Homo sapiens: one gene and its partners. The protein of the gene in region 1 interacts with the protein of each later gene in a pairwise test. Each region holds a gene or a part of one and is shown in the gene's direction. Other genes may lie near its edges.

The links.
Region 2: the proteins of JPH3 (region 1) and ANKRD13D interact in binary tests that used the Homo sapiens proteins (3 or more experiments, as listed by UniProt).
Region 3: the proteins of JPH3 (region 1) and LZIC interact in binary tests that used the Homo sapiens proteins (3 or more experiments, as listed by UniProt).
Region 4: the proteins of JPH3 (region 1) and ASB9 interact in binary tests that used the Homo sapiens proteins (3 or more experiments, as listed by UniProt).
Region 5: the proteins of JPH3 (region 1) and ZNF20 interact in binary tests that used the Homo sapiens proteins (3 or more experiments, as listed by UniProt).
Region 6: the proteins of JPH3 (region 1) and PPP1R16A interact in binary tests that used the Homo sapiens proteins (3 or more experiments, as listed by UniProt).
Region 7: the proteins of JPH3 (region 1) and ZKSCAN3 interact in binary tests that used the Homo sapiens proteins (3 or more experiments, as listed by UniProt).

The regions. Positions count from the first base shown.
Region 1 is NC_000016.10:87,609,008-87,612,507, forward strand, and holds part of JPH3 (junctophilin-3), read left to right. Parts: intron 1-3,500. UniProt on the Homo sapiens protein: Junctophilins contribute to the formation of junctional membrane complexes (JMCs) which link the plasma membrane with the endoplasmic or sarcoplasmic reticulum in excitable cells.
Region 2 is NC_000011.10:67,292,303-67,295,802, forward strand, and holds part of ANKRD13D (ankyrin repeat domain-containing protein 13D), read left to right. Parts: intron 1-3,500. UniProt on the Homo sapiens protein: Ubiquitin-binding protein that specifically recognizes and binds 'Lys-63'-linked ubiquitin. Does not bind 'Lys-48'-linked ubiquitin.
Region 3 is NC_000001.11:9,933,392-9,936,891, reverse strand, and holds part of LZIC (protein LZIC), read left to right. Parts: intron 1-264; coding exon of another isoform or gene 265-272; coding exon 273-373; intron 374-1,264; coding exon 1,265-1,400; intron 1,401-2,031; coding exon 2,032-2,130; intron 2,131-3,500.
Region 4 is NC_000023.11:15,253,084-15,256,583, reverse strand, and holds part of ASB9 (ankyrin repeat and SOCS box protein 9), read left to right. Parts: intron 1-1,739; coding exon 1,740-1,847; intron 1,848-3,500. UniProt on the Homo sapiens protein: Substrate-recognition component of a cullin-5-RING E3 ubiquitin-protein ligase complex (ECS complex, also named CRL5 complex), which mediates the ubiquitination and subsequent proteasomal degradation of target proteins.
Region 5 is NC_000019.10:12,134,101-12,137,350, reverse strand, and holds part of ZNF20 (zinc finger protein 20), read left to right. Parts: intron 1-1,446; coding exon 1,447-1,582; intron 1,583-1,790; coding exon 1,791-1,851; intron 1,852-3,250. UniProt on the Homo sapiens protein: May be involved in transcriptional regulation.
Region 6 is NC_000008.11:144,494,982-144,498,481, forward strand, and holds part of PPP1R16A (protein phosphatase 1 regulatory subunit 16A), read left to right. Parts: exon of another isoform or gene 1-1,479; 5' UTR 1,480-2,213; coding exon 2,214-2,472; intron 2,473-2,995; exon of another isoform or gene 2,996-3,014; coding exon of another isoform or gene 3,015-3,236; exon of another isoform or gene 3,237-3,500. UniProt on the Homo sapiens protein: Inhibits protein phosphatase 1 activity toward phosphorylase, myosin light chain and myosin substrates.
Region 7 is NC_000006.12:28,348,665-28,352,746, forward strand, and holds the start of ZKSCAN3 (zinc finger protein with KRAB and SCAN domains 3), read left to right. Parts: upstream 1-1,282; 5' UTR 1,283-1,403; exon of another isoform or gene 1,404-1,724; intron 1,725-4,082. UniProt on the Homo sapiens protein: Transcriptional factor that binds to the consensus sequence 5'-[GT][AG][AGT]GGGG-3' and acts as a repressor of autophagy. Specifically represses expression of genes involved in autophagy and lysosome biogenesis/function such as MAP1LC3B, ULK1 or WIPI2.

The DNA.
Region 1 (3,500 bases):
GCCTGCTGACAGAGCCAGACCCCATCTCAAAAGAAAAAGAAGAAGTGTGCCTGGTCCTACTCAGTCGGTGCATGGATTCCATGCTCCAGGAAGGGCTGCCACTTGGCATGCCTGCCTATGTTTTCACCCCTACCCTGTCAGTCCTTCCTGAAGAAGTGAGTGTCTTCTGAGGTAACATCCTCTGCTGGTCAACTGGGAGAGCAGCTCCCAGCTTGTGGAGGTGGGTTTGGGGGTGAGACTTTATTTTTTTGTTTTTATTTATTTATTTATCTGTTTTGAGATGGAGTCTCACCCTGTAGCCCAAGGTGGAGTGCAGTGGAGTGATCTTGGCTCATTGCAACCTCTGCCTCCTGGGCTCAAGTCATTCTCATGCCTCAGCCTCCCGAGTAGCTGGGATTACAGGCATACACCACCACACCTGGCTAATGTTTTGGGTTTTAGTAGAGACAGTGTTTTGCCATGTTGGCCAGGCTGGTCTTGAACTGAACTCAGGCGATCTGCGTGCCTCGGCCTCCCAAAGTGTTGGGATTACAGGTGTGAGCCACTGTGCCCGGCCTAGGGTGAGACTTTAGTAAGATGTATAGAAGTTGCTCTGAAGTCTAAGGTGTATTCCTGCCATAGGATATGTGTGTTCACTTCTCTTGGAGCATAACAGGGGTCATAGGTGCACAGCCGAAGGCAGGCAGAGGAATGATTTGTCTGTACCAGTCAGTGAAACTGTTTCACCACCATTCTCTTTACATCTGCCTCAATGGGTGAGTCCTCTAGACCAATGGTCCCCAACCTTTTTGGCACCAGGGACCTGTTTCATGGAAGACAATTTTTCTACCGCCCAGGGTTGAGGGATGGTTTTGGGATGATTCAGGCGCATTCTATTTATTGTGTGCTTTATTTCTATTATTATTACATTGTAATATATAGTGAAGTAATAATACAACTCACCATCATGTAGAATCAGTGGGAGCCCTGAGTTTGTTTTCCTACAACTAGACGGTCTCATCTGGGGGTGATGGGAGATAGTGACAGATCATCGGACATTAGATTATCATAAGGAGTGTGCAAACTAGGTCCCTGGCATGAGCAGTTTCCAGTAGGCTCTGCATTCCTATGAGAATCTAATGCTGCTGCTGATCTCACAGGAGGCAGAGCTCAGGCAGTAATGCAAGCGTTGGAGAGCGGCTGTAAATACAGACGAAGCTTCACTTGCTTGCTTACTCACTCGCCACTCACCTCCTGCTGTGTGGCTGGGTTCCTAACAGGCAACGAACCAGTACCAGCCACATTTCACGGGCTCAACAGCCACCTGGGACTAGTCGCCACCATATTGGACAATGTAAATCCAGAACATTCCATCAGTGCAGAAAGCTTTATTGGGCAGGCAGCACTGGTCTGGAGTGTAAGTTCCATATGGGAAGCGGTTTGTGTCCATGCTGGTCACTGCCATGTGCCCAGTGACTAAAATGGTGCTGGCACGTGGTGGTCAATAAATATTTGTGGAATGAATGACCTGTGCAAGTAAATGCGGTAGTATTTGGTAATTTTGTTTACCGTCATTATTTCGTATGCCTGTTTCATTGCAAGACCTTAGAATTGGACGTAGTTAAAGGAAAGTTTTTCCGTGAGACCCTCATGTCCACAGGTCAGTCTCCCTTTACAATTAGCATTAAAACATGCCTGTTCTAATTCCTTGATCAGTTTTGTTTTGTGGTTGGCTTTGTCATTGCTCCTTAAGAGACTGCCAGTGTTTCATATGAGAAAGATGATGGTGTTGAATGCAGTGAATAATGGAGCGATACCAGCAGTCATGACTGGGAGGCATTTTTGGACCACGATTTAATGAGTAGCATTCATTGCAAAGTGCAAAGAAAGGCCCATGGAAAGATGAGTACCCTCCAGTCTGCTTAATTCCTCACTATCTTTTTACTGCTCCCTTTTCCTTGGCTTGATTCGTTCAGTCATTGGAGAAGCATTTGCCAAGTTCAGACCGTGTTCAAGGCACAAAGACAGAAAAGCTCAGGTCCAACCTCAGTGAATCAGCCTTAAGTATTTGCTGAGCATTGAGTATGTACGCAGTACAGAGTTTGTGGTAACGTGGAAGATTGGAAAAAAAGAAACAAACACATAAAAATGAAAATGCAAGAAATAGGATGTCCTATGTTCTACCAGGAAGAATAAGGAGTCTGAACAGGGATGCAAAACCGAGATATATGGAATAATTCAGGGTTTCTCATGCCACAGTGGGGGTCCTGAATGGGAGCACCACAGGGCAGGGACCTGAGGAGGGGCAGGGCAGGTGTGTGTGTCCCTGAAGGAGCGGCAGAGGCTTCTGGGGGTAGGCAGTGCCTGAGTTGAGTCTGGAAGGGCAGTAGGGTGAGAGTTGTTATCCCAAGCCTGAGGCTGCAGATTTGTTCGAGGCCATGTCTCCCTCAGCCTCAGCTTCCCCATCTCTATGATTTAGTCATGACATTTTTTTCCTTCTCAACATGTGCCATCTCCCTCCTACCTATGAATGTCACGGGTATTGTTCTGGACCCAGGGAAGGCTCGCTGGTGCAAATGCTTTCCAAAAACACCGAGAGTCGCTCTCTCTGCTGCTGGTGGAGTCTGAGTTGGGCAGGACATGGGCCCGCCTCTGTCTGCTGCTCTATGCCAGTGCTTCCCAAGCCTGAGTGTTACAAGAACCACCTGGAAGGTGTGTCAAGACACAGATTTCCAGCCCCACCCCTGAGTCTCTGGGCCTGGGATGCCACCCAAGAATTTATATTTCTTACAAATTTCAGGCGATGCTGAGGCTGCTGATCTGGGGACCTCACATTAAGAACCACAGTCCTGGGCTTGTGCCTCCTAAGCCTGGCTACACATTCGAGTCACTAAGAATGTCCCTGGGAGACGGTTAGAAATGCAGCGTGTCAGGCCTGCCTGACCTCCAGGGTCAGGATGTGTGTTTGGAGATGCTCAGGTGGCTGCAGTGCAGGAGATCCTGCTTTGGTGCACTCACTTTAACCCTAGCTGTGCATGAGCTTCATCTAGGTTGCTTTAGAAAATGCAGATGCCCGGGCCCCACCCACAGGTGCTGATTGAGGTCCTCTGGGTACAGCCTGGGCATTGGGATTCTTTTTATTTTAATTTTTTTCAGACGGGGGCTGGCTCCGTCTGTCGTCCTGGCGTGCAATAGTGTGTGATCGTGGCTCACTGCAACCTCTGCCTCCTGGCCTCAAGCCATCTTCCCACCTCAGCCTCCTGAGTAGCTGGGACTGCAGGCATGCACCCCCATGCCCAGCTAAGTTTTGTTATTTGTTGTAGAGATGGGGTTTTGTCGTGTTTCCCAGACTGGTCTCAAACTCCTGAGCTCAAGCGATCCGCCCACCTTGGCCTCCTGAAGTGCTTTTACAGGTGTGAGCAACTTTTTTACAGGATTACAGGTGTGAGCAACTGCACCTGGCCTGAGATTATTTTTTAAACATTCCAGGTGATTCTAACGTTCAGCGCAGGTTGAGGACC
Region 2 (3,500 bases), on another chromosome or scaffold:
GCTCAGGGGCAGGTGGGTTGCTGCAGCCCGTGTCTCACTCAGACTGCCGGGGTGGTTGGGCTCCTGTGGCCACCTTTGTGGGGAGGGGTCAGGTCAAGATGTCCCCAGTTTCTTGACTTCTGACCTCATATGTTTTCCCATTAAGACAAAGATTTAGGCTGTGGTTCACGGCAGCTCTTTGCACCAATGTTGGCTTGTCATTGGTGCGGCTGTGTTGGGGGCAGAATCCTTTGTGGGTAGCCTAGGAACCTGACCCTTCCAGCAAGAGTTTCTCTGACAACACATGCCCCCTCTTGCCTTAACAGTCAGTGGAAACACTTAAAAAAAAAAACAAAAAACCTTTATTGAGATATAATCTCATATACCATATAAGATCACCCATTTAAAGCATACAGTTCAATGACTTTTAGTATATTTATTCAGAGATTTGTACATCACCACAGTCAATTTTAGAACATTTTTATCACCTCAGGAAGAAACCCCCCACCCTTTAGCTAACTCTTCGCCAAACTTCTTATCCCCTCTCCCAGTCCTAAGCAACCACTAATCTACTTTCTGTGTCTGTAGAATTCCCTGCTCTGAGTTCTCATATGAATGGAATTTTATAATATGTTGCCTTTTGTGTCTGGCTTCTTTCACTTAGTATAATATATTCAAGGTTCATCCAAGTTGTAGCACGTAACTATTTCTTTCCTTTTTGTGGCCATTGTATGAATATACCATATCTTGTTTATTCATTAACCCATCGATAGACATTTGGGTTATTTGCATTATTTGGCTTATGAATAATGCCACTCTAAGTATTCATGTGCAAGTTTTTGTGTAGACGTATGTTTTAATTTCTCTTTCATATGTTTTCATTTCTCTTGGGTATATACCTAAGAGTGGAATTGCTAGGTTACTGATAACTCATTGTTTAATTGACTGTTTACCAAACGAGCTGTACTGGTTTACATTCCCACCAGCAGCATGTGAGGGTTCCAGTTTCTCCACATCCTCATCAACACGTCATTATTCACTCATTTGTTTTTGGAATCTAGCCAGCCTAGTGGGTGAGAAGTGATAGCTCACTGTGATTTTGATTTGCCTTTCTTTGATGACTAATGATGTTGAGCATCTTTTCATGTGCTTATTGGTCAATTGTATATCTTCTTTGCAGAAATGTCTATTCAGATCCTTTACTCATTTTTTATTTAACTTAATTAACTTATTTATTTTGAGATGGGGTCTGGCCTTTCACCCAGGATGGAGTGCAGTGACATGATCATGGCTCATTGCACCCTCCACCTCCCAGGCTCAAGTGATCTAAGTAGCTGGGACTACAGGTGCATGCTGCCATGCCCAGCTAATTTTTAAATTATTTGTAATTATTTTATTATATCATTTAATTGTTTTGTTTAGTTATTTGTAGAGATAGAGTCTACAGACTGGTCTTAAACTCTTAGGCTGAAGCGACCTGCCTACCTGGGCCTCCCACAGTGCTGGGATTACAGGCATGAGCCACCACACCTATCCCTTCACCCATTTAAAAAATTGGGTCATCTTTTGATTATTGAGTCATAGGAGTTTTATAATTTTAGCTGTTACACTTAGGTCTTTGAGCCATTTTAAGTTAATTTTTGTGTATAGTGGAAGGTTCTTTTGCATGTGACTATCCAGTTGTCCTAGCCCCCTTTGTTGAAAAGACTATGTTTTTCCCACTGAATGGTCTTGTCACCCTTGTCGAAAATCAGTTGACCATAGATAAATTGGTTACTTTCTGACTCCCACATTAGTTCCATTGGTCTACATGTCTGTCTTTATGCCAATATTATACTGTCTTAATCACTGTTGCTTTGCAATAAGTTTTGAAATTGGAAAGTGTGAGTCTTCCTACTTTGTTTTTCTTTTTCAGGGTTATTTCAGTATTTTGGGACCCTCGCATTTTATATGAATTCTATTTTCTTTTTTCTCACAACCCAGTGTAGGCAGAATATATGAATTCTAGATTCAGCTTGTCAATTTCTACAGTCAGGTGGGATTCTGATAGGAATTGCACTGAATCTATAAAGCAGTTTGGGGAATAGTACCATGTTAACAATGTTAAGTCTTCTAATCCGTGAACATGGGATGTTTTTCCATTTATTTGGATCTTCTTTAATTTATTTCAACATTATTTTATAGTTTTCAGAGTGTAAGCTTTGCACTTTTGTTACATTTATTCCTAAGTGTTTTATTCTGTTTTTTGTTTTGTTTTGTTTTTTTGTTTTTTTTTTTGAGATGGAGTCTCACTCTATTGCCCAGGCTGGAGTGCAGTGGCACAATCTAGGCTCACTGCAACCTCCACCTCCTGGGTTCAAGCAGTTCTCCTGCCTCAGCCTCCCAAGTAGCTGGGATTACAGGTGCCCACCACCACTCCTTGCTAATTTTTGCATTTTTAGAGAGACAGGATTTCACCATGTCGGACCAGGCTGGTCTCCAACTCCTGACCTTGCTGGGATTACAGGTGTGAGCCACCGTGCCTGGCCACTAAGGGTTTTATTCTTTTTGATACAATTATGAATCAAATGTTTTTCTTAATTTTATTTTTTGATTGTGTATTGCAAATGTATAAAATTACAATTGATTTCTGTATGTTGACCATGTATCCTGCAACATTGCTAAACTCATTCATTCAAGTAGATTTTTAGTGGATTCCTTTCCTCAGTATTTTTTTTAACATATAAGATTATGTTATCTGTAAATAGATTTAGTTGTATTTCTTCCTTTCCAATTTAGGTGCCTTTTGTTTCTTTTTCTTGCTTAATTGCTCTGACTAGAACTTCCAGTAGAATATTGATTAAAGGTTGTTAGAGGCTGGATGCGGTGGCTCACGCCTGTAATCCCAGCACTTTGGGAGGCCGAGGTGGGTGGATCACGAGGTCAGGAGATCGAGACCATCCTGGCTAACATGGTGAAACCCCATCTGTACTAAAAATACAAACAATTAGCCAGGCTTGGTGGCGGGCGCCTGTAATCCCAGCTACTCAGGAGGCTGAGGCAGGAGAATGGTGTGAACCCGGGAGGCAGAGCTTGCAGTGAGCCAAAATCACGCCACTTCACTCCAGCCTGGGCGACAGACCAAGACTCCATCTCAAAAAAAAAGGGGGGTGGTTAGAGCAGGCTGGGCATAGTGGTTCACGCCTGTAATCCCAGAACTTTGGGAGGCTGAGGCAGCCAGATCACTTGAGGTCAGGAGTTTGAGACTAAGCTGGCCAACATGGTGAAACATCATCTCTACTAAAAATACAAAAACAAAAAAAAAATTAGCCAGGCATGGTGGTGGGCACCTGTAGTCCCAGCTGCTTGGGAGACTGAGGCACAAGAATTGCTTGAACACAGGAGGCAGAGGTTGCAGTGAGTCCAGATTGTGCCACTGCACTCCAGCCTGGGTGACAGAGCAAGACTCCATCTAAAACAGTAAATAAATAAATAAAAAAGAAAAGAAAAGTGGTTAGAGCAGACATCCTTGTATTCTTGTC
Region 3 (3,500 bases), on another chromosome or scaffold:
CCAAAGTGCTGGGATTACAGGCCTGAGCCACCGGCGCCTGGCCGCAGCTGCATATTTTTAATTGCACTAGGGACTGGGTGTGGTGGCTTATGCCTATAATCCCACCTCTTTGGTAGTCCAAGATGGGAGGGTCACTTTAGGCCAGATGTTCCGAGACCAGCCTGGGCAACATAGTGAGACTCTGTCTCTACAAAAAATAAAACTTAAAAAAATTGCACTGGTATGTTAATTTCATATGGTATGTGGGTTTATTGTTTCACATAGAGATTAAAATGGCTTCCAGAGGAAAGACAGAGACAAGCAAATTAAAGCAGAATTTAGAAGAACAGTTGGATAGACTCATGCAACAATTACAAGATCTGGAGGAATGCAGGTAAGAGTTTAATTGTATGTTGTTATGCTGGAAACTGGCGTTTTTTCTGCAGCTAGCTCCGTGGATGCAGGCCCATGTGTGATGATTCTGCATTCCCCTGTAGTGTTCTTTGCAGTGCTTTGTCTATTAGAGAAGTAAACTTATTGCAGGCTTTGGAGTCATAAAGGCTGGGAAATGAAAGTCATTCAGTTAACTACTAAGTGCATGTGAACTTGAGCAAAATACTTACCTTCCTTGAAGTAGAAATAACACCTACTTTGTCTTTAGTATTTAAATCAGTCCTACCTGCTGTCAGGCTAAGAAGGTACTACTTGAACTTCTGGCATGTAGTTTCAGCCTTACCTGCACAAAGGACCACAACAGTTCATTGCAGCTTTTTTTTTTTTTTTTGAGACAGAGTCTTGCTGTATTGCCCAGGCTGGAGTGCAGTGGCGAGATCTCAGCCCACTGCAACTTCTGCTTCCCAAGTTCAAGCGATTCTCCTGCCTCAGCCTCCCGAGTAGCTGGGATTACAGGCATGCACCACCATGCCCGGCTAATTTTGTATTTTTAGTAGAGACGGGGTTTTACCATGTTGGCTAGGCTGGCCTCGAACTCCTGACCTCAGGTGATCTGCCCATCTCAGCCTTCCAAAGTGCTGGGATTACAGGTGTGAGCTACGGCACCCTGCTTTATTATGTGGTTTCTTAAGTATCCTCATTTTGGTAAAAGAAAAATGTTTACCAAAGTAACTATATTGCAGGAAAATGCCCTCACTACTACTATGTGAACACATTCACCATCAGCATTTTGATATTTCCCTTCAGTCTTTCTCTAATGTACAAGTATTAAGATTGCATTTTTCACTTGGAACTCTTCATTTTTCCATATCATGATGTTCACCTATTTCAGAGAGGAACTTGATACAGATGAATATGAAGAAACCAAAAAGGAAACTCTGGAGCAACTAAGTGAATTTAATGATTCACTAAAGAAAATTATGTCTGGAAATATGACTTTGGTAGATGAACTAAGTGGAATGCAGCTGGTAAGTATAACATATAGGCGACAGAGGACAGACTTTGTTTTTTTGTTTGTTCTTGTTTTTGTTTGAGATGCATTCTTACTCTGTCGCCCAGGCTGGAGTGCAGTGGGGCAGTCTTGGCTCACTGCAACCTCCGCCTCCCAGGTTCAAGCGATTCTCCTTACTCAGCCTCCTGAGGAGCTGGGATTACAGGCATGTGCCACCATACCCAGCTAATTTTGTATTTTTAGTAGAGACGGGGTTTCTCCATGTTGGTCAGGCTGGTCTTGAACTCCCAACCTCAGGTATCTGTCTGCCTCGGCCTCCCAAAGTGCTGGGATTACAAGCGTGAGCCACTGTGCCTGGCCTTTAGTTTTTTTTTTTTAGAGATGGGGTCTTGCTACATTTCCAAGGCTGGTCTCAAACTCATGGGCTCAAGCAATCCTCCTGCCTTGGCCTCCCAAGGTGTAACTTCTAGATGAGTGTCTGTTTATGCATACACAACATATCCTTCCAGATCTTCATTTAGTTGTGTAATTGCTTCCATGACAGGAACCAGTAAACCTTGATAAAAATTAAGGATCCGTCAATCAGTTATTGCAATATCTGATTTGTTGGACTATTTTGGTTAGTTTTTGCCTTCTTGTGTTTCTAGGCTATTCAGGCAGCTATCAGCCAGGCCTTTAAAACCCCAGAGGTCATCAGATTGTTTGCAAAGAAACAACCAGGTCAGCTTCGGACAAGGTTAGCAGAGGTAAAATTTCTTTAAATTGATTTGGTTGCTGTGTGTTTTTCATTTCCTAGGCCAATTCATTATGATATCCTATGGCTTAAAAATTTGCCAGGTGATTTTAGAGCCACAACTAACAATTTTCTGACAAAATTAGTACTTTGAGCAATTATAGTTGATAATGAATGTAGAGCTTTAAACAATATACGGCAGTTTAAATTGCCACTGACCACTTCTACCTGGACTCCACCTTTAATGTTTTACCATTTACTTCTGGAGCTCTAACTTAAAATCACATTGAGAATTAATTAGCAGCATTGCTTGTATGCATGTGTAGCCTATCTCATCTAAGAATTTCAAGTATCTTTGTAAACCTGATACTTCCAGAAGTCTGTTTATAGGCTTGGATGTAATTAAGAGTTACCAAATTATTTGTAAGTATGGGCAATTCAGTAGCATAGTGATTCAGAGCATGGACTTTGGTCAGACTGGCTGGATTTGAATTCCTGCTTCACTACTGAGGTATGTGACAAGTTTTTTATGTTTTTTTTTTTTTTTGAGATGGGGTCTTGTTCTGTTGCCCAGGCTGGAGGGCAGTGGCGCAATCTCGGTTCAGTACAACCTCTGCCTCTGGGTTCAAGTGATTCTCTTGCCTCAGCCTCCTGAGTAGCTGGGACTACAGCAGGCACATGCCACCACGCCTGGCTAATTTTTGTATTTTTAGTAGAAATGGGGTTTACCATGTTGTCAAGGCTGGTCTTGAACTCCTAACCTCAAGTGATCTGCCCGCCTCAGCCTCCCAAAGTGTTGGGATTATAGATGGGAGCCACTGCGCCTAGCCTTTTGTTTGTTTTTTGTTTTTTTGTTGTTGTTGTTGTTTTTGAGGCAGGGTCTTACTTTGTCACCCAGGCTCAGTGTAGTAATGCAATCTCGGCTCACTGTAGCCTCTGTCTCCTGGGCTCAAGCGTCTCCCATCTCAGCCCCTCAAGTATCTGGGCCCACAGGCACAACACCACCACACCCCACTAATTTTTGTATTTTTCATAGAGACAGGGTTTCACCATGTTGGCCAGGATAGTCTTGAACTCCTGAGCTCAAGCAATCCACCCACCTCAGCCTTCCAAAGTGGTGGGATTACAGGCATGAGCCACTGTACCTGGCCTGGACAACTTATTTTATTCATCCCCTTTGTGCCTAGGTTTCTCTGTCTGTAAAAACATGACAAAGATAGTCCTTACCTCTTATGGTTCTTATGAGGATTAAATGAAGTAATATGTGTAAAAGTACTTTGAATATTCCCAATGTGTGGTACATGCTATTAGTGTTTCTGGTGGAAGAGGTGATATTTTACTAGATGATTTACTAGAACTGCATTTAACATTTCTATCATATTT
Region 4 (3,500 bases), on another chromosome or scaffold:
GGATGGTCTCGATCTCCTGACCTCGTGATCCGCCTGCCTCGGCCTCCCAAAGTGCTGGGATTACAGGCGTGAGCCACTGCACCCGGCCAAGAGTTGGCAAATTTTTTTCAGTAAAGGACCAGATAGTAAATATTTTAGGCTGGGAGGCTGAGGCAGGAGAGTGGCGTGAACCCAGGAGGTGGAGCTTGCAGTGACCCGAGATCGCGCCACTGCACTCCAGCCTCGGCGACAGAGCAAGACATCGTCTCAAAAAAAAAAAAAAAAAAAAAAAAGAATCTTAGGCCTTGCGAACCATGCAGTCTCTGTTGGAAGTACCTAACTCTGCTGTTTAGCAGAAAAGCAGTTGTAGACAATATGTAAATGAATGGGCATGGCTGTGTTCTGATAAAACTTTGCTTATGGATGCTGAAATTTGAATTTCATAAAATTTTCACGTGTCACAAAATATTCCTTTGATTTCTTTTAAACCATTAAAAATGTAGAAACCATTCCTAGCTACAGAAGCAGGTGTAGGCTAGATTTGACTCTGTAGGCTACTGTTTGTTGACCCCCTTGTCAAAACTATGATAGAGCTAGGAAATCTAAGAAAAACAATTAAATGTCAGGAAAAGGAGGGTTTTTTTGAGAAAAAAAATTGGGTGAAACTGATATTTTTATTACAAATATTATTAAATCCTGTGTGTTACTAAATACTTATGTTTAAAGAGCAATTATATTAGTTAATAGGTACATTTCAATTTCCTAAAATAAGAAAGTACATTTAGGCTTCCTAAAAGGTACATGCAGCAGTCTATTTCTTTTCCCTCGCAGTTTGAAAATTTCCTTTTAATTGTCTCACAAGGTAGAGCCACTTGTGAATATGTTAAAACTTAATAATTGCTTGTTAAAACTTAGCAATTTGGGCCACGCTGACTTTAAAAAAATTGAGAAATTTCATAAGCATGAAAGAACTTAAACACGTGTGCAGTTGAATAAAAAGTGATGATGATGAGAATATTGCCATGTGACTGCCTCCCCAGGTCAGGAAATGGAAAAATAGCACAATGCTGGCTCCTCCAAAGACTCACCCATCCCTCCCCTTATTGTGCTTTCTAGAACACAATCCTGTCCCTCTTCCACAGGAGTAACCATTATCCCGATTTCCTTGTTTTCTTTATGGTTTTACTCTATATATTATGTCTTCTGAAACAATATGGGGTAGTTTTGCCTAATTTTGAACTTTAAATTGATGTAATCATTCAGTGTGTATGCTTTTGGATTTTGCTTCTTTTGCTCAACATTATTTTTGCAAGCATCACCCTTGTAGTGCTTGCCATTATGATTTGTTGGGTGTAATCTTTCTGCTGAAAGATTATACCAAAGTTAATTAATTCAGTCCATTGTTGATGGACATTTGGTTTGTTTGCAGTTTTTGACTATTATGACCAATGCTGTTGTGAATATTCTTGTATATTTATCTAGATGTATATATACCTAAGAGTCAAATTGCTGAGTCATAGGCATATGCATTGTCAGCTCTAATAGATACAGTCAAACTGTTTTCCTGAGTGGTTATACCATACCACACTCCCACCAGTAGTGTGGCATTTTTTTTTTTTTAAAGTCAATATAAACACCTTAGTGTAACATCTGACTTTGAGCCAGGTCAGCTTTGTCATAGTACTGGAATGGTGGCTGAAAAGCAGCCCCAGGGCACTGTTGCTTTGCACCCCTTACTCTGACTGTTTCCCCTCCTTCAGGGGTGGGCTGTGAACATCATCACGGCAGATCATGTTTCCCCACTCCATGAAGCCTGTCTTGGAGGTCATCTCTCTTGTGTGAAGATTTTATTAAAGCATGGAGCTCAGGTAAGGGCAGCTGAAACAACATCTTAGAAACCAAGAATGAAAAATGACTATGTATATCCCTTCTGAATAACTTCCAGCACTTTTGATTAGACTGATTTGAAATATGAAGACAGTTGTTTTTCAAGAAAATTATGTTCATCAGGCTTGTTTGCTTTAGTGATGGATGGATGAAATACTAAATTTTTAGTCACGCTTACAGTCTATATCATTTTCTTTATCATACACTACTAATAAATAGTTATTAGACTTCTGTCTTCATTGTTATGGCCGGAAGGTAATGAAATATTGTGGAAAGCACACATTTGCCTGGGATGGCTAGGATGTCTGAGGAGACAGAAAATCTATGTGGTCATTCATCCTTTAGCTGGCAACCTGGACTTGTTCACATGGTAGCAGGGATTGCAAGAGCAGCAAAAATGGACCTGTTTTGTGTTAGGCAACTGAATGGTGGGTTGGGGAAAATTATGGGCTTGCTATCTTCTGGCAACAGCAAATGCAAAGTCCCAGAAATGATAGTGAGCAATTTTTATATCTTGAAGTCATTCCTTACGGCAGGACAGTAGAGTAGGTGAGAGGGTTCAGAACATAAGCAACCTTGTCCATGCCAAAAAAAGAATGGGCTTTGTCCTGAGATCAGTAAAGAGCCAGAGGTGAGTGCACTGCCAGATTTATATTTGGGTTAAGAAAACATTCAAAACTTGGAAACAGGGAACGTGTCAAGGTGAAGCAAGAGACACCTAGGGTACAAACTTGAAAGAAGTGCTCGCTCTCAGGGTCCTGCACTATTTGTGTGACTCCAAAAATGAATATGTCCTTAAATTTTTTACCCTGGGCAACTTTTATGTCTCACTCTGGTCCTGGCCCTGCTTGGAAGTAGAGTTTGAGAAGGAATTCGTTGTCTTCACAATATCATTGCTTAAAAGATTCACCAGATAATCATTTAATGATATACAAGAATGTGTCTGCACTTGGCTTTTCTATTCACTATTTAATTATAGCCCAAACACTGTGAAGTTAGACATTAACTTCGAAATTTCTGTCTGATTTCCAACATTAGAAAAGATAGCCTCAAAGATTATACTTTTATGGCCCTATAGGACATTAACCAGTTTTTATGTTTTTATTTTTTTAATTTTTGAGATGGAGTCTCGCTCTGTCGCCCAGGCTGGAGTACAGTGGCACGAACTCAGCTCCCTGCAACCTCCGCCTCCTGGGTTCGAGTGATACTCCTGCCTCAGCCTCCTGAGTAGCTGGGATTATAGGCACGCACCACCACACTTGGCTCATTTTTGTATTTTTAGTAGAGATGGGGTTTCATCATGTTATCATGTTGCCCAGGTTGGTCTCGAACTTCCGACCTCAGGTGACCCGCCCACCTTGGTCTCCCAAAGTGCTGGGATTACAGGTGTGAGCCACCGTGCCCGGCGGAGTTTTGTATCTATTAGCAAATATATTTCAGCAGTCCATTGACTATATACGTTTTTCTTTTTTCTTTCTTTTTTTGAGACAGAGTCTCACTCTGTCGCCCAGGCTGGAGTGCAGTGGCGTGATCTCGGTTCACTGCAACCTCTGCCTCCCGGGTTCAAGTAATTCTCCTGCCTCAGCCTCCCGAGTAGCTGGGACTACAGGCGCATGCTACCATGCTGGGCTAAT
Region 5 (3,250 bases), on another chromosome or scaffold:
CTGTTGAGGTCAAGTGCAGCTTTCTTCTTCTTCTTTTTTTTTTTTTTTTCTGAGACAGTCTCTTTCTGTCGCCCAGGCTGGAGTGAAGTGGCGCTCTCTCAGCTCACTGCAACCGCCGCTTCCCGAGTTCAAGCGATTCTCCTGCCTCAGCCTCCCGAGTAGCTGGGATTACAGGCACGCACACACCCGGCTAATTTTTGTGTTTTTTAGTAGAGAGGGAGTTTCACCATGTTGGCCAGACTGGTCTTGAACTCCTCACCTGAAGTGATTGGCCTGCCTTGGCCTCCCAAAGTGCTGGGATTACAGGCATGAGCCACTACACACGGCTTGAGTACGGGTTTCTTCTGTTATAAGAAAGTGAAACCCATAATGAAAATGCATGGTAAGGTAACATAAGAAGTCACGGTAACAGGCAACTCTAGAATTAATTCATATGGAGATGATGGGCTTCAAAGATTGTTTGTTCTCCTGTAGGTAACCATCTGTCCCTGTTCCTTCTGGTAAGTGAGGACCACTTGCATAATTGGCTGGTGATACCTGCTTTGTCGTGGTTTCACTATTTTCAGAATCTGCTGTTTTCCATTAGTCTATCTTTCCATCTGTTAATACCATTTTCTCTTGATTAGTATAGATTTTATTTATTTTATTTTATTTTATTTTTTCGAGACGGAGTTTCACTCTTGTTGCCCAGGCTGGAGTGCAATGGTGCAATCTCAGCTCACCGCAATCTCTGCCTCCCGGGTTCAAGTGATTCTCCTGCCTCAGCCTCCCAAGTAGCTGGGATTACAGGCATGTGCCAACATGCCCAGCTAATTGTGTATTTTTTTTTTTAATAGAGACAGGGTTTCTCCATGTTGGTCAGGCTGGTTTCGAACTCCCGACCTCAGGTGATCCGCCCACCTTGGCCTCCCAAAGTGCTGGGATTATAGGCATGAGCCACTGCGCCTGGCCTATTTATTTTATTATTATTTTTTTGAGATGGAGTATTGCTTTGTCGCCCAGGCCGGAGTGCAGTGACGCGATCTCGGCCCACTGTAACCTCTACCTCCTGGGTTCAAGTAATTCTCCTACCTCAGCCTCCCGAGTAGCTGGGACTACAGGCACCCACCACCACGCCTGGCTGATTTTTATATTTTTAGTAGGGACGGGTTTCTCCATGTTGGCCAGGCTGGTCTCAAACTCCTGACCTCAAGTGATCTGCCTGCCTCAGCCTCCCAAAGTGCTGGGATTACAGGCGTGAGCCACCGCGACTGGCCAAAGACCCTCTCTCTTAACAAAAAAAGGGTTGGTTTGTGGGAGGACGTGAGTATAGACAGAAAGTAAGAGGTGTGATGACCAAGTCATGGGATAAATGTTTGGAGTCCACAGTATCATGAGAACTTCTTAGGAATAAAGTATAGGCCTCCAGGGCTGTTAGTCTTACCTGTCCTCTTTTATATATGTGAGATGTTTCAGGATTCAGTGGCCTTTGAGGATGTGGCTGTCAGCTTCACCCAGGAGGAGTGGGCTTTGCTGGATCCTTCCCAGAAGAATCTCTACAGGGATGTGATGCAGGAAACCTTCAAGAACCTGACCTCTGTAGGTAAGAATGACAATATTACTTCCCAGTGAATTAGAGAACAAATGCTTCTAGCTCATCAATGCTGTTCATTGATTTGGAACATGGACAAAAAATACTTTGATGAATAAATCAGGCATGGCTACCATGTACCATGAATACAGAATCTAATGATTTTTAAATAAATTCATACTAATTCTGGATCTGTGTTTTCTCCGGGTCTGTGTTTTAGGAAAAACATGGAAAGTTCAGAACATTGAAGATGAGTACAAAAATCCCAGGAGAAATCTAAGGTAATTTTCTCTCGCAAGACAAGGCAATGCCTCTAGAAAATCTTAAAATGTGAGAAAATAGGCCGGGTACAGTGGCTCACGCCTGTAATCCCAGCACTTTGGGAGGTCGAGGTGGGTGAATCCCAAGGTCAGGAGTTCGAGACCAGCCCGGCCAATATGGTGAAACCCTGTCTCTACTAAAAATACAAAAAAATTAGCTGGGCGTGGTGGCACATGCCTGTAGTCCCAGCTACTTGGGAGGCTGAGGCAGGAGAATTGCTTGAATCTGGGAGGCAGAGCTTGCAGTGAGCCGAGATCGCACCACTGCACTCCAGCCTGGGTGACAGAGCGAGACTCCGTCTCAAAAAAAAAAAAAAAGTGAGAAAATGTTAAAAAGAAGCAAAAGAAATAAGCCCAGTATCAAATTTATGTATTCATAGAAAGTTTTCCTAAAAACATATGTTTAAATGTAACATACGCTGGGCTGGGCACTGTTGCGCATACCCCCAAATGCCAGTCCTTTGGGGCTTTCAGACCAAAGGATTGCTGGAGGCCAGGAGTTTGAGGCTGCAGTGAGCCATGTTGGTACCACTACACTCCAATTTGGACAACAGGGTGAGTTGAGACCCCAACTCAAAAAAAAAGACGCACATGTTTAGTATTTGTAAAATAGTTTACTTGAAAATAGGATTACAAAGCCCCATAGAAATACTAATTTTAAAAAAATATATATACCCAGACCATCTTGTAGAGCATATAGTCCATTAATATTCAAATGATTCAGACAGAGCAGAAAGCTGACACTTTGCCGGGCAGTGTTAACAATGCAAGTGCAATAGTTGTTAATGATATAAATCATGTTTTTTTCTTCTTTTTTGAGACAAGAGTCTCGCTGTGTCACCCAGGCGGGAGTGGAGTGGTGTGGTTTTAGCTCACTGCAACTGCCACTGCTTGGGTTCGAGGTATTCTCGTGCCTTAGCATCCCAAGTAGTTGGGATTACAAGCGCACGCCGTCACACCTAGCCAATTTTTGTATTTTTAGTAGAGACAGGGTTTCGCCATGTTGGCCAGGCTGATCTCAAACTCCTGGCCTCAAGCCATCTGCCCGCCTCAACCTCCCATGGTGCTGGGATTACAGGCGTGACCCACCATACCCAGCCAATATAGATCACTTTTTTATTTTTTTATTTTTTTTTGAGACAGAGTTTCGCCCTTGTCACCCAGGCTAGAGCACAATGGCGCAATCTCAGCTCACTGCAACCTCTGCCTCTGGGGTTCAGGCGATTCTCCCAACTCAGGCTCCCGAGTAGCTGGGATTACAGGCACCTGCCACCACGCCCAGCTAATTTTTGCATTTTTAGTAGAGACGGGGTTTCACCATGTTGGCCAGGATGGTCTCAAACTCCTGACCTCAGGTGAT
Region 6 (3,500 bases), on another chromosome or scaffold:
CTGGCCAGTGTGTGCTTGCCCTGGCCTCTGCGGTCTACAGAGCTGGCCAGGCTTAGGAGCAGGCTGCTCGGAGGGAGAGTTACTGCCTGGAAAAGCTCTTTACTTGGCAGGCAGAAAGCCAGGTCAGGGCCACTGGCCTTATTGGCCGTGTCCTCAGGAAGCCTCTGAGGCTAGGCCTACAGGGGGGGACTATGTCTAGAGTAGGCTGAACCTGTAAAGTGGGGCTCCCAGATAAATTGGGGGCCCCTGAGCAGGAAGGACCTGACTGGCTTAATTTGACCTGGCCCAGGACAGTTCCCTTTCTGAAAGAAGGGGGCATTCTATGAAACACCTGGGTAGAAGTCCAGCAGTGAAGAGTTGGGTCAGTGTGTAGATGGCCATGAGGCCTGGCTGGGTGGAGAATAGGACTCCTGGCAGGCATCTTCTGCAGAGCACGGAGTGCCTTCTTTCTTTTCTTTCTTCCTTTCTTTCTTTCTCGGAGTCTCGCTCTGTCACCCAGGCTGGAGTGCAGTGGCGTGATCTTGGCTCATTGCAAGCTCTGCCTCCCTGGTTCACGCCATTCTCCTGCCTCAGCCTCCCGAGTAGCTGGGACTACAGGCACGTGCCACCACGCCCAGCTATTTTTTTTGTATTTTTAGCAGAGATGGGGTTTCACCCTGTTAGCTAGGATGGTCTCGATCTCCTGACCTCGTGATCCACCCGCCTTGGCCTCCCAAAGTGCTGGGATTACAGGCCTGAGCCACCGCGCCTGGCCAAGCACAGAGTGCCTTCTGAGGTGAGGCCTGTGGCCAGCCCAGCAACCACACTTAGTGTGTCGGGCAGGACTAGGGCCATAGCAGGTACATAGGCAGGGTTGTGCCCCAGCCGAAGCTGTCTGCCTGCCTGTCTGTCCCCATAGGCCTCAAGCCAGGCACCAGGTGGGGGCTTTTATTGCAGCCTAGGATGGCAGAGGCATTGTGGGAGCCCATCAAGGAAGAGGTCTAGAGACTGGGCAGTGAGAGGCTGGGGTATCAGTCAGGACAGGAGGAGGCGGGGCCTACCCTTGGAAGGCAGGAGAGGTGGAGGCCCAGGAGGCGGGGCCTGCCCTTGGAAGGCAGTAGCCTGCAAAGCCCTCAAGGCTGTTCCACGAGACCTCACCCTGCCCAGCCTTAGGGCAGCGCCTGGCCCTGGAGGAGCAGCCTAGCAGGGAACGCCTCGCTGGGGTGGGCGGCCCTTTCTGGAAAGGGTGGGTGGGAGGAGCCTGACATGCCTTTCCCCCGCCCCTCTCTGAACCTGGGGCAGAATGGGGGCAGAGTAGCTCCCCGTACCCCCAGGACTGTTGACCTGCAGTGCTCTCTGTGGACAAAGGGTGGGCCTCACACAGGGCAGGACCTGAGACAGCTGGAAGCCTGGTCTCACCTGAGGCCCAGGGCAGGGGCTCCCCCGGGCCACCCTGCCTCAAGCCGGCCTTGATATGCTTCCTTGTTCCCCACTTCTCAGGTGTGAGCAGCTGCTGGAAGAGGAGGTGCTCCTGAAGACACTGCGGCCGGCCCGCCTGTGCCCTTGGTGCCCTGGCTGCCTAGAGAGCCTCACCCCTGGGCCCTGGGGCCAGGACTCCAGGACTCTGACTACCTGCCCTCCCCCAGCCTCAGCGGCTGCACCTCCTCGTTAGTACTGATGCACTGACCTCGGCACACAGCTGGGAGGGGTTGGGGGCTGGGTCATGGCTGCTCCCAGGCCCCACCCAGGCTCCTGAGCCTAGAAGGTGAAAAGAGGACTCTCAGGGGCTCACAGGGGCTCTCACTGCTGGTTGGCCCTGCCCTCCCTTCCCCCTCAGCAGGGTGCCCGGAAGCTGGAACCTTGTTATCTGGGTAATTAGTTTCAGACCCTGCACTGAGGCCGGCCAGGTCTCGGGGCTGCCTCCCATAGGTTGTGCACCCTGACCCCGAGAGGGAGGCGAGGCGCTGCTTGTCGACAGCTAGAGGCTGGCCTGGGGAGCAGGTTTGGGGTGCCCTCCCACACTGCCCTCCCTGCCCCGGCCCATGCCCCCCAGGGCTGCCTGGGCCTGGTTATTGTGTGGGGCCTCCTGACCCAGCCAAGGGCACGAAGCTCTGGGAAGGGGATGCCCCCGAGGGTGCCAGTCCAGCTAGCTGCCCCACCCCTCAGGCCCAGCCTGGCCCCCAAGCTCCCCACTCTGGTGCCCCGAGCAGCCCTGTGGGCAAGCAGCCGCCGCCATGGCCGAGCACCTGGAGCTGCTGGCAGAGATGCCCATGGTGGGCAGGATGAGCACACAGGAGCGGCTGAAGCATGCCCAGAAGCGGCGCGCCCAGCAGGTGAAGATGTGGGCCCAGGCTGAGAAGGAGGCCCAGGGCAAGAAGGGTCCTGGGGAGCGTCCCCGGAAGGAGGCAGCCAGCCAAGGGCTCCTGAAGCAGGTCCTCTTCCCTCCCAGTGTTGTCCTTCTGGAGGCCGCTGCCCGAAATGACCTGGAAGAAGGTGAGTGTGGCTGAGCCCAGAGCAGCTCCCAGCAGACGGCCCACTCCCTGCTACCTGGGTGCCGTCTCATGCCAAGGCTGGGGGCTGGGCCTGTCCACAGCTCCTGGGCTCCAGCCCCCAGATCTTGCCTGGTCTCTTCAGGCTGGGTGGCCCAGGGTGCCCCCATCAGGCAAGCCCCAAGCAGTGGGCAGCCCTGAGGTGAGCCTGTGCGGGACAGCCGTCCTTCAGGCGGGGGCTGCATGCAGAGGGCTCCTGCTGTGAGGTGAGCTGAGGCCATGAGTGGACCCCCAGGAGCCTGCAGAAAAACCTAGTGCGGGGCCCCACGGGAGCAGGGGTGGCCGGTAGTCATTGCTGCTTCTTGTTAGGCTGCTCAGGAGAGCCCTGGTCTCCACCTCCGTGAAATAGGGTGGGACCAGCCACCTCTGTGGGTGAGAGAGCCAGGCCCTGGGCAGGCACAGAGCTATGCAGGTGGCCCCCTCTCAGTGCCTGCCCTAGGCTCTGCTTGTGACTCTCTTCTCCTCACCTGTGCCCCACGCTTGCAGCCCCAGCTGTGTGGGTTCCACTTCTGGTGCTCTGGAGTCTTGGGGGAAGAGGCACTGTGGTGGCCCTTGAGACTCCTTCCTGCCTCCCTCCGGAGCAGAGAGTAAAGAGGAGCCGGCAGTGTCTGGCCTGCATCTTTCCATGTGGACAGGAGCCCTCCCGGGAGGCCTGGAGGCAGAGGGAAGAGGCGGAGGGTGCCATGGTCCACAGGGAGCTGTGGGAAGGTGGGAGCCCTCCTGCTGCACCCCAGGCACCGTCAGGGAGAACCCTGGTGACCTGGGCGAGAGCTGGGCCCGAGTTGGGATCTTTGATGGGGAGGGGAGTGAGAGCAGGGATGTGCTCTGGTGGTGGGGAGCCTCAGGTCAGGTCCCAGAGGACCCAGGAGAGCTCATGAACACAGGGCTGGCAGGTTGTCAGGGAAGAGCCGAAGGAGCTGTGGTAGCCTCCAGGCAGGGAGCTCTTCCTGGGCTGGAGGGAGGTGTGGGATT
Region 7 (4,082 bases), on another chromosome or scaffold:
GTTTCTGCAGCTCCTTCATTTGTTTTAAAAATGTCTCGGATTCGTGACTCTTTCATTATTCCATATACATTTAAAATCAACTAGTCAAGTTCCACTGAGCACAATTGGAATCTTGATTTGCTTTGTACTGGATTTGTGTATCAATTTAGGAAGGAATGATATCTTTATGATATTGAGTTCTCATATATATAGGTGTATATACATGTCTCATATACAGGTGTATACACATGTCTTATATACATAGGTGTATATACATGTCTTATACATAGGTGTATATACATGTCTCATATACATAGGTGTATATACATGTCTCATATACATAGGTGTATATACATGTCTCATATACATAGGTGTATATACATGTCTCATATACATAGGTGTATATACATGTCTCATATACATAGGTGTATATACATGTCTCATATACATAGGTGTATATACATGTCTCATATACATAGGTGTATATATATGTCTCATATATAGGTGTATATATATGTCTCATATATATAGGTGTATATATATGTCTCATATATATAGGTGTATATATATGTCTCATATATATAGGTGTATATATATGTCTCATATATATAGGTATATATTTCAACTACTTATCCCTAATGAATAAAGTTACTAATGTTTCCATTCAGGTATCTTTTGTAAGTATTTGCTTCTGTGATAGATGTCTTTTAAAAATTCTATTTTTATAATTTTGATGGAGAATGTGATTGTGAACATGAATTTTAAAAAGTCCAGCCAACTTGCTAAACTCTCTTATTAATCATCATAATTTGAGTGTTAGATTATCTTGGATTTTTTATGTAAACCACGCAGCATGTTCCTTAAAATTTATGTATTTAGAATTCATATTCTAATTAGGCAATGCAATCAACTCTAAAATTAAAAGTACATTTAAAACATGCACCCTAACACTTTCCTTCTCACTCTTGTCCCCGTTTTCACTCAGTTTCTGACCGTTCACCTCTCGTAGGTAACCACCATTATTAATTTTCCGATTTTTCCAGGGCTTCTTTGTGCCACACACGCACACATAATTTAGATTCTTTTTACTCTCTTCTATTCGCAAATATAGCAAATTATGAAAATAATTCTGCACCTTGCCTTTCTCCCTTAGTTATAGCTGGAAAAATAAAAATTTAAAAGCCTCTTTAATAGCAAAAGGGGAGGGGACACAAGGTGCCGAGCTAGCAAACGACAGAGTCTGTCAGGGAGGTGGCTAGAGAGGCCCGGAAGTGGCTTCTGTGCCCCGCCCTGCGGGTGGTTTGCTAGTTTCAAGCACTTTGTGAGTATGGGGTGAATCGGCGTCGGCCTTCCACTGTGGGGTTAAATCTCATCCCGCGGCTCTCCTCCTGTCGGTCCTGCAGTTCTTTTGTCCCCGGGTAGAGGTGCGTTTGCAGGAGTATGTGTGTGTGTGTGTGTGTGTGTGTGTTTGTGGAGAGAGGCCCTTCCCTCCCCAGTTCCTGCAGCCTCGGCTCCCAAGGAGGGAGACCCCTGCGAGAAGCCGTGGGGGAGGGAAGGGCGCTCTGCGGCGGAATGAAGTGGTCCTCGGCGTTCCTGCGTAGAGCCCAATATGGGTGTCCCTTGTTTAGGGCCGTTACCGAGTGTCCGGGTCGGTTCTTGAGGGTATTTGGAGACGGGATGCATGGGTCACATAGACAAGCCTCGAGAATGGGAGCCGTTACATTTTTGCACTGCCTGGTAACAAGGTCAGTTTCAAGGTCTTTAAATTATTCTGTGGTACTGGCCAAGAGCCAGAACGTTGGAGTCAGATTACCTGGTTCAAATCCTGCCTCTGCCACTTACTGGCTGTGTGACTTTTCACTAGTTCCTAAGCTCTCTCTCTGCCTCATTTTACTATTTTGTAAAATGGGGATAATATTCCCTAACTCACTGGGTTGTTGTGAGGATTGAATGCATTCGTATGGGTAAGGTGCAGAGTAAGCATGATTTAAAGATTTGCTTTTATTAGTGGTACTATTATTATTTATAACTATGATGACACATTAGTGACTGGCTTTTGTACGGTTGCTTTCAATTTTACTGTCATTCATCAATTCACTTTGTAATGGATGATTTCTATATTTTAGGAGGGAAAAATAAGATACTCTGAAAAAGAGCCTATCCCAAAGCAAAGACCAAAACTGGTTTGTGTTGGACGTTGTGATACTCAAACTCTCAAAGGCTTTAAGACTCGGGGGTACCTTTTCCTTGGCTGGAGATTAGGAGGAACAATAGAAGTTTTTAATAGTGAAAAAGGACTAGGACCCCTGGTTTTTGCAAAAATCTGATGTCCTGCTTAGTGCTGGAGATCCACCAGTTTTCGAGCTTCCAGGAACGCCCTAGCCTGAAACTGGCTTCATACTAACACCCTTCATTTCAACCCAACTTTTACAGGGTTAGCTCTTTCATAGACTTGTAACTCTTTTCTGTTAATGAGAAACTTTCCTTTCCTTATCTTCAGTATATTTACTGATTTGATAAATACTTTGTGTTGGCAACCAATTTCCCAATCTTGTGCCTTCCCACTGTGATCAGTTTGGCTCAGATCCAAGTAGGGGCCAGGTAGTGAAACCTAAATGGAGTTTGTGGAATAAATGATATAAATGTATCAGTGTTGTTTTCCTGCCATAGACTTCCTCCCTTCCCCACCGTGGACACCCTCCTCATTCCACTTGGGCTCCAGATTCACTCTGGGTTGGGCTGTGGCTCTCTCTCGCCTTCCTTGACCCTACCTTAATGCTTTTTGGCTGTATTATTCAGGAAGGAAAGAAGTTAGGACATTGTTTAATTTTCTAAAATTTTGGAGAGAAATTTAAACACATTTAATTGTAGAGAGAATGTTACAATGAACACCAATATAACCATGACTCAGCTTCAGCCATCATCTTTTGGTCATTTTCTTTCATTCTTCTTTTCCCTCCTTTCCACTCTCTTTCCTTCCCTTCTCCTCCTCCTTCCCTTTTGTCTCCCTCCTTCCCTTTTACTTCCTCCCTCTTTCCCTCTCTCCTTTCTTTCCCTCTCCCTCCTTTCTTTGTCTTCCTTTCCTTCCCTCCCTCTCCCCCTCTTTATCTCTTTTTTTTCCTCATTTCGTCCCTCTCTTCTCTTTCATTTTATAGCAAATTGCAGATGGAAACATTTTAGTTCACTCACAAGTACAAGTACTTCAGTGTCAATTTCTTATATACAGGGACTTTTATCTTAATATAATCATAGTATCATGATCACACGCAAAAAAATTGACAATAATTCCTTGATATCATTATCTTGATTTTCAAATAATTGTCTCAAATATTTCTAGAGTTTTTTTTTTTTACAGTCTTTTTACAGTTGTTGTTTTCAGTGGGGTCCGAATATGGTTCACCATTTGCATTTATTTGATAAGTCTGTTCAGTCTTCTAATCTATGACAGTTCCCATTCCCTCCCACTCCTTTTGGTAAAAATGCCATTTATTTGTTGAGGAACTTGAACCTTCTGTTTTATAAAATGCCTCACATTCTGGATTTGGTCGATTGCTTCTTTTTAGTATCTTTAACTTATTAGATCTCAAACTCAGCTGCACATCAGAATGACCTAGAAAGTTTTAAAAGTTATTGATGTATTAAAAGTCCCACCCCCAGAGAGTGATTTAATTGATTTTTTTTTCATTGCAATCTCCATCTCCCAGGCTCAAGTGATTCTCATGCAACAGCCTCCCAAGTAGCTGGGATTACAGGTGTGTACCACCACACCCAGCTAATTTTTGTATTTTCAGTAGAGACAGGGTTTCGTCATATGGGCCAGGCTGTTCTTGAACTCCTGACCCCAGGAAATCTGCCTCAGCCTCCCAAAGTGCTGGGATTACAGGTGTGAGCCACTGCACCCAGGCTGATTGATCTTGATTGTACCCAAGGCATTAGGATGTTTTAAAAGCTCCCCAGTGATTCTAATATGTAACAAAGTTTGAAAGCCTTTAATGTAATTTGCTCCTATATTTCACCTGTACACTGGTATTTGGATCTAAAGACTAGATTAGATTTAGGCTCACTTATTTTGGTATTATTAGCTCATGTAGGAGTACCCCAGA